Homo sapiens: one gene and its partner. The protein of the gene in region 2 interacts with the protein of the main gene of each other region in a biochemical or structural test. Each region holds a gene or a part of one and is shown on either strand. Other genes may lie near its edges. The genes, in order: SREBF2 and KLF13.

Region 1 (7,273 bases), on a different chromosome or scaffold from region 2:
ACCTCCTTGTAGACTCCAGTACTCCCACATCGAACACACATTGCTAATACTTTTTCGAGCGAAAAACAACTAAGAGGGGTGACATTTACAATTTGACTGATTTGTGCTATAGACCCTCCCATACCTACTCAGCATATAGAGATTTAACATCTCTGAAGACTAACACCTCCAGGAATAAAGGGGGAGGGAGGAGGGTGGGGGAGAAGGCAGCTCTTACTGGTACTTGAAGGGCAGCCGTCTGGATAGGGGTGGTGAGGGCGGTGAGGGCCGGGTTCTGGACCGCAGCCATAACAGGGCTGCCATCTGTCTTCAGTGTGGTCAAAACAAGGGAATCTGTCTTGATGATCTGAGGCTGGACCAGGACCTGGATGAAGAAGGAAGAAAAGTAAAAGGATGATAGCATTATCCTTCTGTTATGCATTCCTTTCTTACTGCATAGACCTTCCAAGAAAGAATGAGAAATGATATAATTTTTATGAAATTGAGAATAAAAAAATGAACAGGAAATTTCATAGAGGCCATTTCAAAAGCCGGCTATTTTGTACAGCCTGAATACCGGGTTCAGGTGGAGAAAGAGGGGCTAGCTAATGAGGGTCCTGGCTTTTTTTTTTTTTTTTTTTTTTTGCTGAGACAGGGTTGCTCTCTGTTGCCCAGGCTGGAGTGCAGTGGTGCAATCTCAGCTCACTGCAGCCTTGACCTCCCGGGCTCAAGTGATCCTGCTGCCTCAGCCTCCTGAGTAGCTGGGACTACAGGTGTGTGCCACCATGCCTGGCTAATTGTTTGTATTTTTTTGTAGAGACAGGGTTTCACCATGTTGCCCAGGCTGGTCCTGAACTTTTGGGTTCAAGAAATCCACCTGCCTCAGCCTCCCAAAGTGCTGAGATTACAGGCGTGAGCCATGGTGCTCAGCCAGGTCATGGGTTTTTAGGTTGAAAGACTTTCAAGAGGGTGGTGCCAGTGGCCCAGCAGGAGCAGAGCAGAGATGGGTAGGGTGGATGGCAGAGAGGAGAGAAAAGACTCAGGAAAGCCAGACACATGGCTGAGAAGCAAAAATAATAAACCTGATTTTTTTAAGATAAATTGTTAGTAAGAAAATATAGGCCAGATGTGGTGGCTCATGCTTGTAATCCCAGCACTTTGGGAGACCAAGGCAGGTGGATCATGAGGTCAGGAGTTTGAGACCAGCCTAACCAACATGGTGAAACCCTGTCTCTACTAAAAATACAAAAATTAGCTGGGCGTGATGGCGCGTGCCTGGAATCCCAGCTACTCGGGAGGCCGAGGCAGGAGAATTGCTTGAACCCAGGAGGCTGAGGTTGCACAGTGAGCCGAGATCGTGCCACTGCACTCCAGCCTGGGCGACAGAGCAAGACTCTCAAAAAAAAAAAAAGAAAAAAGAGGATATAGTCCACGATGATATATAACATAAAGACGTTTTTTGTGATTATAAAAATAATACACGTCCCCCAGCTGGGCACAGTGGCTCCCACCTGTAGTCTCAGCACTTTGGGAGGCCGAGATCGATGCACTGTTTGAGGCCAGGAGTTCAAAACCAGCCTGGCCAACCTGGAGAAACCCCATCTCTACTAAAAATACAAAAAACTAGCCAGGTGCAGTGGCAGGTGCTTGTAATCCCAGCTACTTGGGAGGCTGAGGCAGGAGAATCGCTTGAACCTGGTAGGCGGGGGTTGCAGGGAGCCAAGATCACGCCACTGCACTCCAACCTGGGCAACAAGAGCAAAACTGTCTCCAAAAAAAAAAAATTAAAAAAAAGATTAATAATACATGCCCCCCCTCCCCCCAACCCAATATATGTTCAGGATCCACAGCAGAAAATATGGAGAACAGAAAACTATGAAAGCCAAGGGCAGTGGCTCACGTCTGTAATCCCAGCACTTTGGGAGGCCGAGGCGGGTGGATCACAAGGTCAGAAGTTCAAGCCAGCCTGGCCAACATCCCGTCTCTACTAAAAATATAAAAATTAGCCGGGTGTGGTGGCACATGCCTGTAGTCCCAGCTACTCGGGAGGCTGAAGCAGCAGAACTGCTTGAACCCGGGAGGCGGAGGTTATAGTGAGCTGAGACCACACCACTCCACTCCAGCTTGGGCAACAGAATGAGACTCCGTCTCAAAACAACAACAACAACAAAAAAACACAACACAAAACTATGAAAAAGAAAATTATCTGGGAAATACCAATTTAGCACATTTCTTTCCAGTTTTATGCCCATTACATGTGTACGTAAGTGACTGCACCAGCCTTTCCTGAGTGCCAGTGTCTATCTACAGATATGGACTCAGCCAGGTCACTATACGCTGCTCACAGGTGCATCCTGGCGCCCTACAAGCTGCTTTGTGTACACTCTGGTTGGTCCTTCTTAGTATGTAGACCACATCTTCAACCAAGGACCAGTTAACAGCCCCAACCAGTGCCTCCCTGAATCCTTTCCAGCCACTTACCGGGACCTGCTGCACCTGTGGCGCAGCAACTGTCTGCACCGTAGCCGGGGCAAGGGTCTGCAGCGTGCCATTGGCCGTTTGTGTCAGCACCCGCTGGGCCTGTACTGTCTGCACCTGCTGCTGAATGGTGACCGGCTGTACCTGGGAGGATGTCACCAGGCTTTGGACTTGAGGCTGAAGGACTTGGGAGAAGAGGAGAAAGAAGGCACAGAGATGAGGAATGCATTCTGTCACTGCAGCTGCAGCAGAAACCTGAGGATGGAGTATCTCATAATGATTCCAACTCCCCACCTACTGCTGAAGATGATGTGCACAGCCATTTACAAGGTGGCTTAGACAACAAGAACATCCCATAAGGGCTGCATCAATTTCTGAGGGAACGAGTACAAATTGTTTTATTACTCTGGGTGCCAGGGTGGGGGAAAGGGAAGCTAATCAGCAAATGACTGCACCCAGCAAGGGAGTTAACAGATGTTGAGAATCAACAACTCCCTGGGGCTTCATTTTCTTCCATCCTTTCTGGACGGCAAGTGCACTTTGGGAGGACTGTCTCAGCTTTTTGCCTTTACATTCCCCCACCTGTCCCAATTCTTGAACTCCATTGAAGAACTATAAGATTCTTTGAAATTCAAAGCAATACTAATCTTACCCTGGGCTCCCCACAGAGTCAGAGGGAAATATGATGAAAAGGCACTGGGATGCAGCACATCACAGAAAGAACAGGCCCCTTTCAGTCATCCATTCCCTCAACACATACTAAGGGCCCAGCATGAGGCTTGCTACTTGAAGCTGCTGCACCTATATTAAAAGTCATATTCATCACCATAGTGGATGCTCAGATGTTTGCTGAATGAATAGTTCTCAACTGTGGCAGCTGAGATCTGGCTGCCGCCTAGCCAATTTCAAGCCTTATTCAAGTCTCCACCACTAGTTATCAGAATGGCCCTGTGTCTACTATGCTTGCTGGATTTTTTTTTTTCTTTTTAAGATGGGAGTCTCGCTCTGTTGCCTAGGCTGGAGTGCAGTGGCACGATCTCTGCTCACTGCAAGCTCTGCCTCCCGGGTTCACGCCATTCTCCTGCCTCAGCCTCCCGAGTAGCTGGGACTACAGGCGCCCGCCACCATGCCCGGCTAATTTTTTCTATTTTTTAGTAGAGATGGGGTTTCACTGAGTTAGCCAGGATGGTCTCAATCTCCTGACCTCGTGATCCGCCCGCCTTGGCCTCCCAAAGTGCTGGGATTACAGGCGTGAGCCACCGCGCCCGGCCGCTTGCTGGATTTTTTAACCAAGTATTTTTGAATTAGGCGCAATAGATATTAAGGTATTTGAAGCTGCAGAATGTGACATGCTCCTGTACCAGTTCTTATTGCCAGTTACCAGAACCTCATTCAGACAGGACCATATTGATATACCTGCCATTCCTGAAGACGACAGAAATATTTACAGTGTCTGCAAACTGGCACATAAACATTGGAACCAACCAACCACTACCATTCTAACTTCTGAATCACCTTGAAAGCTAGTAGCTGCATTCTGGTATATCAAAGGCTGCTGGATGATCCTCGTCTGCGGAGTGGTGCTGAATGTTGGCGTGATCATTACCGTCTGTTGTTGCAGCTGAGTTTGAGGTTGAGGCTGGGGCTGGGGGCGGGGCTGAAGAATAGGAGTTGCCCTGGGTGTGGTGGGAACTGAGGTGGGAGAAACCTTGACTTGCAGAGTTGGAGCCTGTGGGGAGGCCGCCGAGGGAGAGAAGGAAGGTAATGTGACCTGGGTGAATGACCGTTGCACTGAAGGGTCCACAGCTCCGCTGCTGCTGCCCCTGCCATTGCTGCTGCTGCTGCTGCTGCCACTGCTGCCGCTGCTGCTACCACTACCACCACTGCCAGGAAAGGAGCTACACAGCTGTTCTGAAAACAAGTCAGGGAACTCTCCCACTTGATTACTGACAAATTGCAGCATCTCTGTGAACAAAAGAAAAGGAGTAATTTTATTGCTATCCAAAAAGTGAACTTTCAAACTTGCTTAAGAAACTAAGGCATGAAAACTCAATGACTTTCCTAAGACCATGGCAGAAATGGGTCAGGAAACCCTTACCTCTTTCTTGTGGGGATCATCTGGGCCAAGATGGCTGCCCAAGGTCCCAGGACAACAGGACAGGACTTTATCTGTTTGATGTTCTTTTCCCTCCTCACACTCACCTCCAGGCCCTTTCTCTCATTTTCTTTCTTTTTTCTTTTTGAGACGGAGTCTTCCTCTATCGCCCACGCTGGATGGAGTGCAGTGGCGCGAACTTGTCTTACTTCAACCTCTGCCTCCTGGGTTCAAGCGATTCTCCCGCCTCAGCCTCCTGAGTAGCTGGGACTATAGGTGCACGGCACCATGCCCGGCTAATTTTTGTAATTTTAGTAGAGACAGGGTTTCACCATATTGATAGGTGGGTCTCGAACTCCTGACCTTAGGTGATCCACCCACCTCAGCCTCCCAAAGTGCTGGGATTACAGGTGTGAGCCACCGCACCCAGCCTCTCTCTTTTTCCTGATTGTTTTGATCATAAAAGGAACTACCTTTGTACTAGATGGGTGCTGTTCTGTCGAAGGTACCAAGGGTCCTTTTTTACAGCTGGAAACACTGAGGCAGCGAGTAGGGAGTCACTGTCCTAAGGCTGTGAGTATAGCGGTTTTGGCTTGTGAGGCCACCTCTAATCCTAGCACTGCAGACCCAAACTTGCTCTAACCTCTTTCCTCCTCACCACAGGGAGGCTCTAGGCCTCCTCTCCAAGCTGAGTAAAACCCTGGGCACTGTTGGTATTCTTGGAAACACTCAGGGACAACCAAGTTGATGGCCCCTAAGTCATGGAGCTTCAGGGATGCAAAGAATGGAAAAACCATATATGAAGTCCAGGAGAGGAAAGTAACTTGGCCAAGGTCACACAGCTTGTCAGGGTACAGCTAGGATTAGAACCAGTTCTCTGCCTCCCAGCTTTGTGTTCTTCTACCACAACACAGTGCAGGTATGTTGCCAGGCCAGGACACAGCAAGCCTGCCCCACCCTGAACTCCGTGCTTCCCAGGGCCCATGCTAGCCCTTGTCTGGTTGTGCCCCTTTTCTCTGGGCAAGGAGTCTTGGGTCCAAAGGGATTTGTCCACCTGGAGACCTCGCTTCCCTTTCTAGATCATGTTCCAAGTAGCTGGGACCCTTAAATTCCCAGCCCAAAGGGTCTCAAGCCTACTTCCAGGGCCTCTTCCCTGGTCAATCTTCCCAAAGGCTTTCCAAAACCCAACTTAACCCACAACTACCCCATCATCTCTCACGACTCCCTTCTTTTTCATATGACTGGTCCCTATAGAAGTCAGGAGCCTCAGCTTTGTCCCAGATAGTTTCAGACCTACAATTCTCTACATTGTCCATATTCTTTTCTCTTTTCTCTCTCCAATACGTTCCCAAGAAGCTACTGCTTGTTCTTGAACTATGGCCCCTCCTTTCCAAACCTTCAAGGCCATGTGATGCTCTGATTTAGACACCAAAACAACAAAAACCACCACACCACCACTATAAAAAAATAAAAGGAACCATCTCCATTCCCCCAAACCTCCACCAAGATGTCCTTCTCAGGTCTCTGATGCTGTGTGTGTGTGTGTGTGTGTGTTTTTTGGGGGATGTGGGGGCCTGGAGCCTGGGGTATATTTGTATATCTGACAAACAGAAAGCTGCTGAGACCGGTTGTGGTGGCTCATGCCTGTAATCCCAGTGCATTGTGAGGCCAAGGTGGGAGGGTCACTTGAGGTCAGGAGTTTGAGAACAGCCTGGGCAACACAGCGAGACTCTGTCTCTCTTTTTTTTGAGATAGGGTATTGCTCTGTCACCCAGGTTGGAGTGCAGTGTTGCAATTTCAGCTCACTGCAGCCTCCACCTCCCAGGCTCAAGCGATCCTTCCACATCAGCCTCCTGAGTAGCTGGGACCACAGGTGTGCGCCAACCATGCCCGGCTAATTTTTGTATTTTCTGTAGAGACGAGATTTCACCATGTTGCCCAGGCTGGTCTCAAACTCCTGAAAAGCAACCTCTCGGTTTGGCCTCCCAAAGTGCTGGGACTACAGGCATGAGCCAGGGCACCTAGCCAGATCCCTTCTCTGAACACAAAACAAACAAACAAAAAAACACAAAGATTTTTTGGGCCGGGCGCGGTGACTCACGCCTATAATCCCAGCACTTTGGGAGGCCAAGGCGTGCGGATCACAAGGTCAGGAGATCGAGACCATCCTGGCTAACACGGTGAAACCCCGTCTCTACTAAAAATACAAAAAATTAGCTGGGCGTGGTGGTGGGCGCCTGTAGTCCAAGCTACTCGGGAGGCTGAGTCAGGAGAATGGAGTGAACCCGGGAGGCAGAGCTTGCAGTGAGCAGAGATCGTGCCACTGCACTCCAGCCTGGGCAACAGAGCGAGACTCAGTCTCAAAAAAAAAAAAAAATATATATATATATACATATATATATATATTTTGATATTTTGTGTGTGTGTGTGTGTGTGTGTATATATATATATATATATATATATATATATATATATATGCTTGCAGAAGGATAGGAAAAATAAATCATAATTAAATGTAAATAGGCCAGGGGTGGTGGCTTATGCTTGTAATCCCAGCACTTTGGGAGGCCAAGGCAGGTGGATCACCTGAAGTCAGGAGTTCGAGACCAGCCTGACAAACATGGTGAAAACCCCTGTCTACTACAAAAATTAGCCAGGCATGGTGGTGGGTGCCTGTAATCCCAGCTACTCGGGAGGCTGAGGCAGGAGAATCGCTTGAAC
Region 2 (6,838 bases):
CCAGATGCAGCGCTGGTCTACCCCTGGGTGAGGCTGAGATGTGGCTGCACCAGCACCTCCCTTCTACATGCTGTGGCTAGAACAGGGTTCGGGCCAGACCTCCACCCCAGCAGCCACCTCCTCCACTAGCTGCCAGCTTCCCACTGCCTCCGATGAGGACATCATCTGCCCTGGGGACAGCCAGGGGCAGTTAGTGTTCATTGGGGACTTAAACGGGCTCTGCTATCAACACCTGCCTTCCTACTCCCCAGACTCCCAGTGTCCTGGGACTCGTCCTCGCTGGAGCACACTTTGGGGTCAGTGCCCGTGGTAGGTTGTAGGAACTTTGGTAGCTAGAAACAGGGGAGTTTTCTAGACTCTAGGCTGAGGGGTGAGGCAAGCAGCGCATCTGGGGTTGAAAGAAGCGGTGGCTGCTGCCCAGGAAAAGGAAGTCCAGGTGTTTTGGGGGGACTTTGAGGGAAAGGTGCTGTGCCCTTTGAGGGAATCTGCCATCACCACATCCCGTTCTCCTCCGTGCTCTTTCGGATGGACGGAGGGGTGGGAATGTGAAGAGCTGAAATAGCTTCCCATGGGCAGGAGGGGAAGCCAGAAGAGCACCCACTGTGTGCAAGAGCTCTTCTGCAAAGCCTTCCTTCCAAAATAGGACCCGCCAAGTTCCAGGCAAGCTTCAGTCCCTCAGTCAATTGCAACTGCTTGAGTTTGTGCATTTCAGTTCCCCTCCCCTCCCGGAGCCTCTGCAAGACATGCTCTTCAAAGAAACTAGCTCCAGCAAATAAAATAATGAATCATAAATTTTATTTCAAAATGTAAACGTCACTAAACATGCATACACGTTAAAACAATAAAATTTACAATTTCGTTAATTTTTCTTTTTGCATAGGACATCATTACAATATAGAATCTATGCCATACAAAATACATACAAAGTTTTATCCGAGCAAGCCAAGGCCAGACTGGGAACTGTACAACTGTAATACTTCACTGTAGTGATCCAGGAAAGATGAAACGTGGCCTTCGGAATTATGGTGGGTGCTGGTTAAAAAAAAGTTCCTACAGAAAAGAAAAACATGAGCTCCATGGAAATGGTCTTGGACCCTTGGATTCTGCCTTGGGCTTTTGGCAAATGATTCCAGAGAAGCTCCACCAATGGCTTTGGATGGGAAGGGGTTGCCTGTGCGGGCCTGGGGCAGCTGAGACCCGGAAGCATGCACCCAACACATGCACACAAGCAATTCCCAGTCACCAAGGAACCACCGAAAGCCCCAAACCCGACAATGACAATGCATAGTTGCTCAGTAGTGCCTCCTTTCTGCTGAGGCTTTCCAGCCCCAGAGGCCTCAGCACTAGGCACCAGGGGCCTCTCTAGGATGAGGCCAGGGAGCAAAGTCTCCCACTCACACACCCAGAGGCAGGCACCTGGAGCCGGCACAGACGCTGGGGCTAATGAGCCCACGTGGTGTCTAGAGCCACATGGGAGGTGGCCTCTTGCTCCTCTCAGGGCAGCCAGGTACAAGGGCTCCTCTGCTGAGTGCATGGCCTGGCAGGCATTCGGCTCACACACCTGGTTTCCAAATAAGCACGCACTGCGACCTGTCCACGGGCCCTCTAGAAGAGGCCAGGGAAAACAGGACCCTGAGGCCTTAAGAAAGCTGTTCCCGTGCTCCCACCCCCACCCCCATGACTTCCTGCCTCCACCCCCCACCCCCCTCCCCGGAATGTGTGACTTGTAGGGTAGGGGACGCTACTTCTCTCCCATCCAGTTCATTTTTAAATAAAAGTAGTAAAGTTTTAAAGCTGTATGAGAAAGAGAGAGGCAGGGCAGGGCCAGGTGGCCGCACTGCAAGTCTGAAATCTTCATGGGGGTCAGTAGAAACCAAGCGCGACCCCTCTTCCCTCATGGACACCGGGCTCCCGTCTCCTGCTGAATTCAACTCTTCTGATGCTGAGGGACAGGACAGCAGGCAGGAGGCGGCGCCTCGCCCTAAAGGGTGCTCAGGCGTGTATCAGTAGTAAGGTGGACTATGCATCCAAGTTCTGGTACAAAGGTCTCCGGAATGTGTCTCAGACAAGCCTTCAGAGCCTCAGAATCAGGAAAATTAGTAATAGGACCTGGTTCTTCCTGGGGTAATCCTGATTTCAAAAACCATCAGCCCACGCCTCAGATTTTAGCTTTGGAAAATATGGTGACCAGAATTGTATATGGAAACAGTCAGCAAAAGATGTGGATAACCTACCAAGCGTTTCTTACTGGTTGTGATGTGACCAACACATTACACCCTTTAAACCTCTAGCACTGTGTCTTTGACTAAATGACCTTTTTTAAATGGGGGAAAGAAAATCAGTGACACCTGTCAGAAGTCAAAATAGGTAGCCCTGTACACACAGCCACAACCAGAAGCGGAGAAACAAGGCCACACTATTGCTCAGATCACATCTTCCTGTTGGGTGGCACCCCTGCCCAGCTGAGATCCTGAATGGGTCCCGAGGGAGTGCCGGGACCCTGTGCAGTCCATCTTAGCACCTGCTTCTGGCAAGAAAGAGGCTGGTCTTCTGGACACACCGGGTGGGGAGACAGAACACTTGAGGTCAAGTCCTGAGGCAGAGTGGCCAGCCCTCTCTGCCCATCCCCACCTCTGAATCACCCCTCACTGGTCTGAGCTGTGTTCAGGGTGCTGCAAGGACTGGGATCGCCAGTGCCTCAGATGTTTGTACCCGGAGGCTGCACCATGGCGAATCCTGCACCTGCCTCGGTGTGGGGCCTGGGAATAAAGTCAGGGTTAGGAGTGAGGCGATCTTGCACTCGAGTGTCGTGGGTGGGGGTGCAGCAGGATGCAGGTAGGGCACCTCCAGGACCATGTTCCCATCCAGGACATCTCTGCCCATTCCTATGCAGCATCCTGCAGGACAGGACCCCAGGGCTCTTTAAGGAAAGGGCTGTGTCCGTCTGTTTTCCTGTATGGCTGTAGGATCCAGTAGGCATTTGGGGAGCTGACAACCGTTCCCCTAATATGGCTGATGTAAAGAGGGGCTTCCTTGTCTGGGACAGGAGCAACACCAGCCCCTTGATGGCTGAGCCCCAGATCAATTTTAGGCCTTTTATAGGGGAACTCTCCCTTCACTCAGGCAACCTTCACTTTGACATCTCTGCCCCTATGGACCACGAGAACTGAAGTCCCAAAATAAGGGTTTGAGTTTTCACTATTATTTCTATGAGTCCTATGGGTTCCTCAACCCCACCAAAACTGGCAAGCATGGCCATAAACCACAAAAATGGAAGACCCTGAAATAGACGCAGTCTGGGAAAACATTCTGCATGTTTGAAGAAAATGGAGGCTGTTTCAGGAGGGTCCGCCTTGTGTGCCCGCCTCAGTGGAGGCAGCGTTCCAAGGCCCACCACCCTCTTCCACAGGAGTCCCTCACTTCATGATGAAATGGAAACCTGCCCTTGAGGACCCCTGTGAACCGTGCCTGAGATTCATGGGTTTCTCCCTGCCCTTCAAGCGAGATGAGTTTAAGCCGCAGATGATTCAGGAGGGTCTGGCCAGGAGTACCCAGGAGGATTTCTCTCCTGGTGCCCTACCCCCATTTCCCAGTCCAGGCCGGGGCCTAAGGACCGCACCCTGCCATTAAACGAGAACCACTTTGGGAATGAAGACACGCTCTTATGCCAAAAATAGCCAACGCCTGCATATTTCTGTTTTAAGGCAATGTTACCCTTCCATCTATCAGACGGAACAGCCCTGGGTCATTTAAAGGAAAAATTAAATTAAGTGCTCTCTTTGGAAACAGCCAACACCCGCTTCCCTCCCCCACCCCCCGCCCTGCTCTAAAACAAACCAGCTCTTCTTTTTATTCCAAGATGACTAGGTTTAGAGTCCTATCTTTTCCTTCCTATGTGCAGACAGATGTGGAGCTAGAAAATCTCCTTCCGTGACACCCTGGGCAGATCACAAGGACGTCTGACCCCTCCCTGGAGAGCACTTTGCCAGCCTCCCAGGGACGGGCCACTCCCTCTCCCTGCCTTGGGGAACGGTGGACGGTGAGTGCACCAAAGGACTTTGGAATAAAATTCCTGAACCTGGAATGTGAATTCCTGAGACATAAAATGTATTCAGAGTGTGGCTTTCTCTGCCTCACACGAAAACAACTTTGGGAGGGACCTCACTTTGGAACTGGGCATGAAGATCTTTGCACCACAAGCACCCAGGGCTCTCTTCTGTCAAGGTCCCTACCAAATATTCCACTCTCTCTCCCAGACCCAATGCAAGCAGGGAGGTCAGAGAGCCCCAACACAGCATGGCAGCCAGAGGGACCAGCTCCGCATCCAACCAGAGTGGAGGTGACCCTCTCCCTGCCAGTTCCCACCACAGCAGAAACAATGCCACTGCCCAATTTAGGGTCCATCGGTCTACCTAGAAGTCACCACCACGCTGTCGGCCAATCCCAGCTGACACACAGTGGTAAGAAGCGGGCACCTGACGGCATACTGTGCCTGAGCAGCTGCTGTGGACAGAGCGTACCTGTCCACTCTGGAGCCAGCCAAAACAGTGACCATCAGCTGTGGGCAGTGGCTAGGCCTGGGTCCTGGGTTTGTGCTGCACCCCATAGCATGGCAGGGCTGAGTAGAAGCAGGATGGCCACAACCAAGGCACGCTAGGCCCAGGAAGCCCATCTGTGGCCCTCTGAGGTCCCAGGGCCGTTCCTTTGCATCAAAATAGGTACTCATCAAAACAGGTATCTCTGGCAAGATACCCTGAGTCCACCCCAATCCCCCCACCCCCCCCAACACACGCGTGTGTGCTCACGCGCGCACACACCCACACGCACGCACACACTCTGTCCTGGGCCCTTGTATTTACAGGCCTCAACTCTCAGGAGGAAGGGAAGGTGATACCTGGGCCACAAGCCTGGGTCAACACTCCAGCCATCTGCAGAGGAGTTTGCTGGACCACGGCTTGACTGACCCCCGCCCAGGGCTCGAATCCCAGCCCAGGACCCAGCTCTCTGCTCCTCCTCTCCTGCCAGGAGAAGGCCGGTGATGGGGCACTGGAGCAGCCCCACCAGCTGGGTGTGGCCTGGAGCCTCCAGGCAGGACAAGGAGAAGCAGGAGGAAAAGGGAGGAGGAGTCCAGGGGAAACGGAGAGGCTGGAGGTTTGCTAAGTCTGAGTTGGGGACATGGTGGGTCTGAGAAAAGTGTTGCCCGCAACTTTCTATCTGGCATTCCCTGCGGAGGAAATAGAATGCGCGCTCTCCGACAGCATTTCCTGTAACATCCGCGCCACTCCTGAAAAGGTCCAAGTCACAATGTTCCGGTCTCTTGCTACAGAATGGTCTCTGTGAAGCATGGTGCGCTGCCACATGCACAGCCGCTCACACAGACCCTCTGATGAGGAGGCCCCATGACCTGCCCACTGTTTCCAACAAAAGTGCCCGTGCGGGCAAACTCGGAACTGGATGTGCCACCAGGAATTTCTAACATCTTTTTAGAAGACCAGAATTCCCCATCAGAGGCCCAGGTATAGTAGTGACAGGGTCCTGCATGCCTTCTGCTGGGACACGGAGAAGCGGAGTCCTGGCAGGTGTGACCCCGGCCCCTGCCTCGGAGGTCGGACGGTGCAGTGCTACGCTCAGCCAGGGCTGGCATCTCTGCTTCCAGTGCTCCCTAGCGCCGTAGGAGAGGGCTCCTGAAGGCGGGGTGTGAGGCAGGCAGGGTGCAGAGGGCTGAAGGCCCCCTCCACTATCCCCAAGGTGGAGTGCTCCTCCAGCCAGGGACAGCTTTAAGGCATCCCTCTGCAGGGGCCTGTCTCAGAATCAGCTGCGTTGCAAGCCCAGCCAGGCTCGTTGGGCAGAGGCCAGAGACTGGGTTGGGGGCTGGGCAGGAAGAGGTCAGGCCAGCTGCTTAGGAATCTGCCCTGGAGGCACAAACGTCAGTGAGCACATCTGCTCCCAACAGACCCACAGGCTGGCCAGCCAGCCAGACGCTGAGCTCCACCAGACTGGCTGGCCTGCTCTGTCCCCAGCGTGTTCCCGAACCTAACAGAAAACTCCAGAGTGCAAATCTATGTACAGAGTAAGGCGGCAGGAAGGGGTGTCCTCACTGACCTCGTGAAACGTGTCCATCCCTGAGAAAGGGGGTTCAACAACGCTGAATCTCAACTTTGTGGGTGTATCTATTGTGCAATTTGGTGGGTGGTGTTTTTTGAAATTTTTGTGTTTTTTTTGTTTTTTTAACAAATTTACTTTGACACCTGAGGTGAAAAAAATTGTTTTTTCGTGGACTTTGCATCAAGTTCTCTCTCTTCTTTCTTATTACAAAAGGAAAGGCCAGGGACTCACGAGGGGGTGGGAGCGGCTGCTCATGGCTGTGGCGGGCTCAGGGCGAGCTGGCCGGGCTGATGGTGGGGCTGCTGGCGTCGGAGCGGCTGTAGTCGCTGAGGGAGCCGGTCCGCGAGCCCCCGCCGCGCCGCTGCAGCATTCCCGGGTGGAAGTTGGCGTGGCGGCGCGCGTGCTTGGTCAGGTGGTCGCTGCGCATGAAGCGCTTCTCGCAGATGGGGCAGCTGAACTTCTTCTCGCCCGTGTGTGTGCGGTAGTGCCGCGCCAGCTCGTCGGAGCGCGCGAACTTCTTGTTGCAGTCCTGCCAGCTGCAGGCGAAGGGCCTCTCACCTGTGGGCACAGGGGCAGAGCATCAGTATCCGCACCTGGCCCCGCCTTCACACCCTCTCTGGGGAAGGGCCCGCAACACCCAACACCCTGGTCTCTCAACACCCCTCCCACATGCCCCACCTCCAAGAGCTTCTGTGACAAATCCATCAAGGCAGAGATGAAGGTGGGCCCCTGC

What was found.
Region 1: the proteins of KLF13 (region 2) and SREBF2 form a complex in vitro, tested with the Homo sapiens proteins (one study listed by BioGRID).

The regions. Positions count from the first base shown.
Region 1 is NC_000022.11:41,863,980-41,871,252, reverse strand, and holds part of SREBF2 (sterol regulatory element-binding protein 2), read right to left. Parts: intron 4,423-7,273; coding exon 3,973-4,422; intron 2,643-3,972; coding exon 2,461-2,642; intron 365-2,460; coding exon 218-364; intron 1-217.
Region 2 is NC_000015.10:31,371,835-31,378,672, reverse strand, and holds the end of KLF13 (Krueppel-like factor 13), read right to left. Parts: intron 6,664-6,838; coding exon 6,374-6,663; 3' UTR 774-6,373; downstream 1-773. UniProt on the Homo sapiens protein: Transcription factor that activates expression from GC-rich minimal promoter regions, including genes in the cells of the erythroid lineage. Represses transcription by binding to the BTE site, a GC-rich DNA element, in competition with the activator SP1.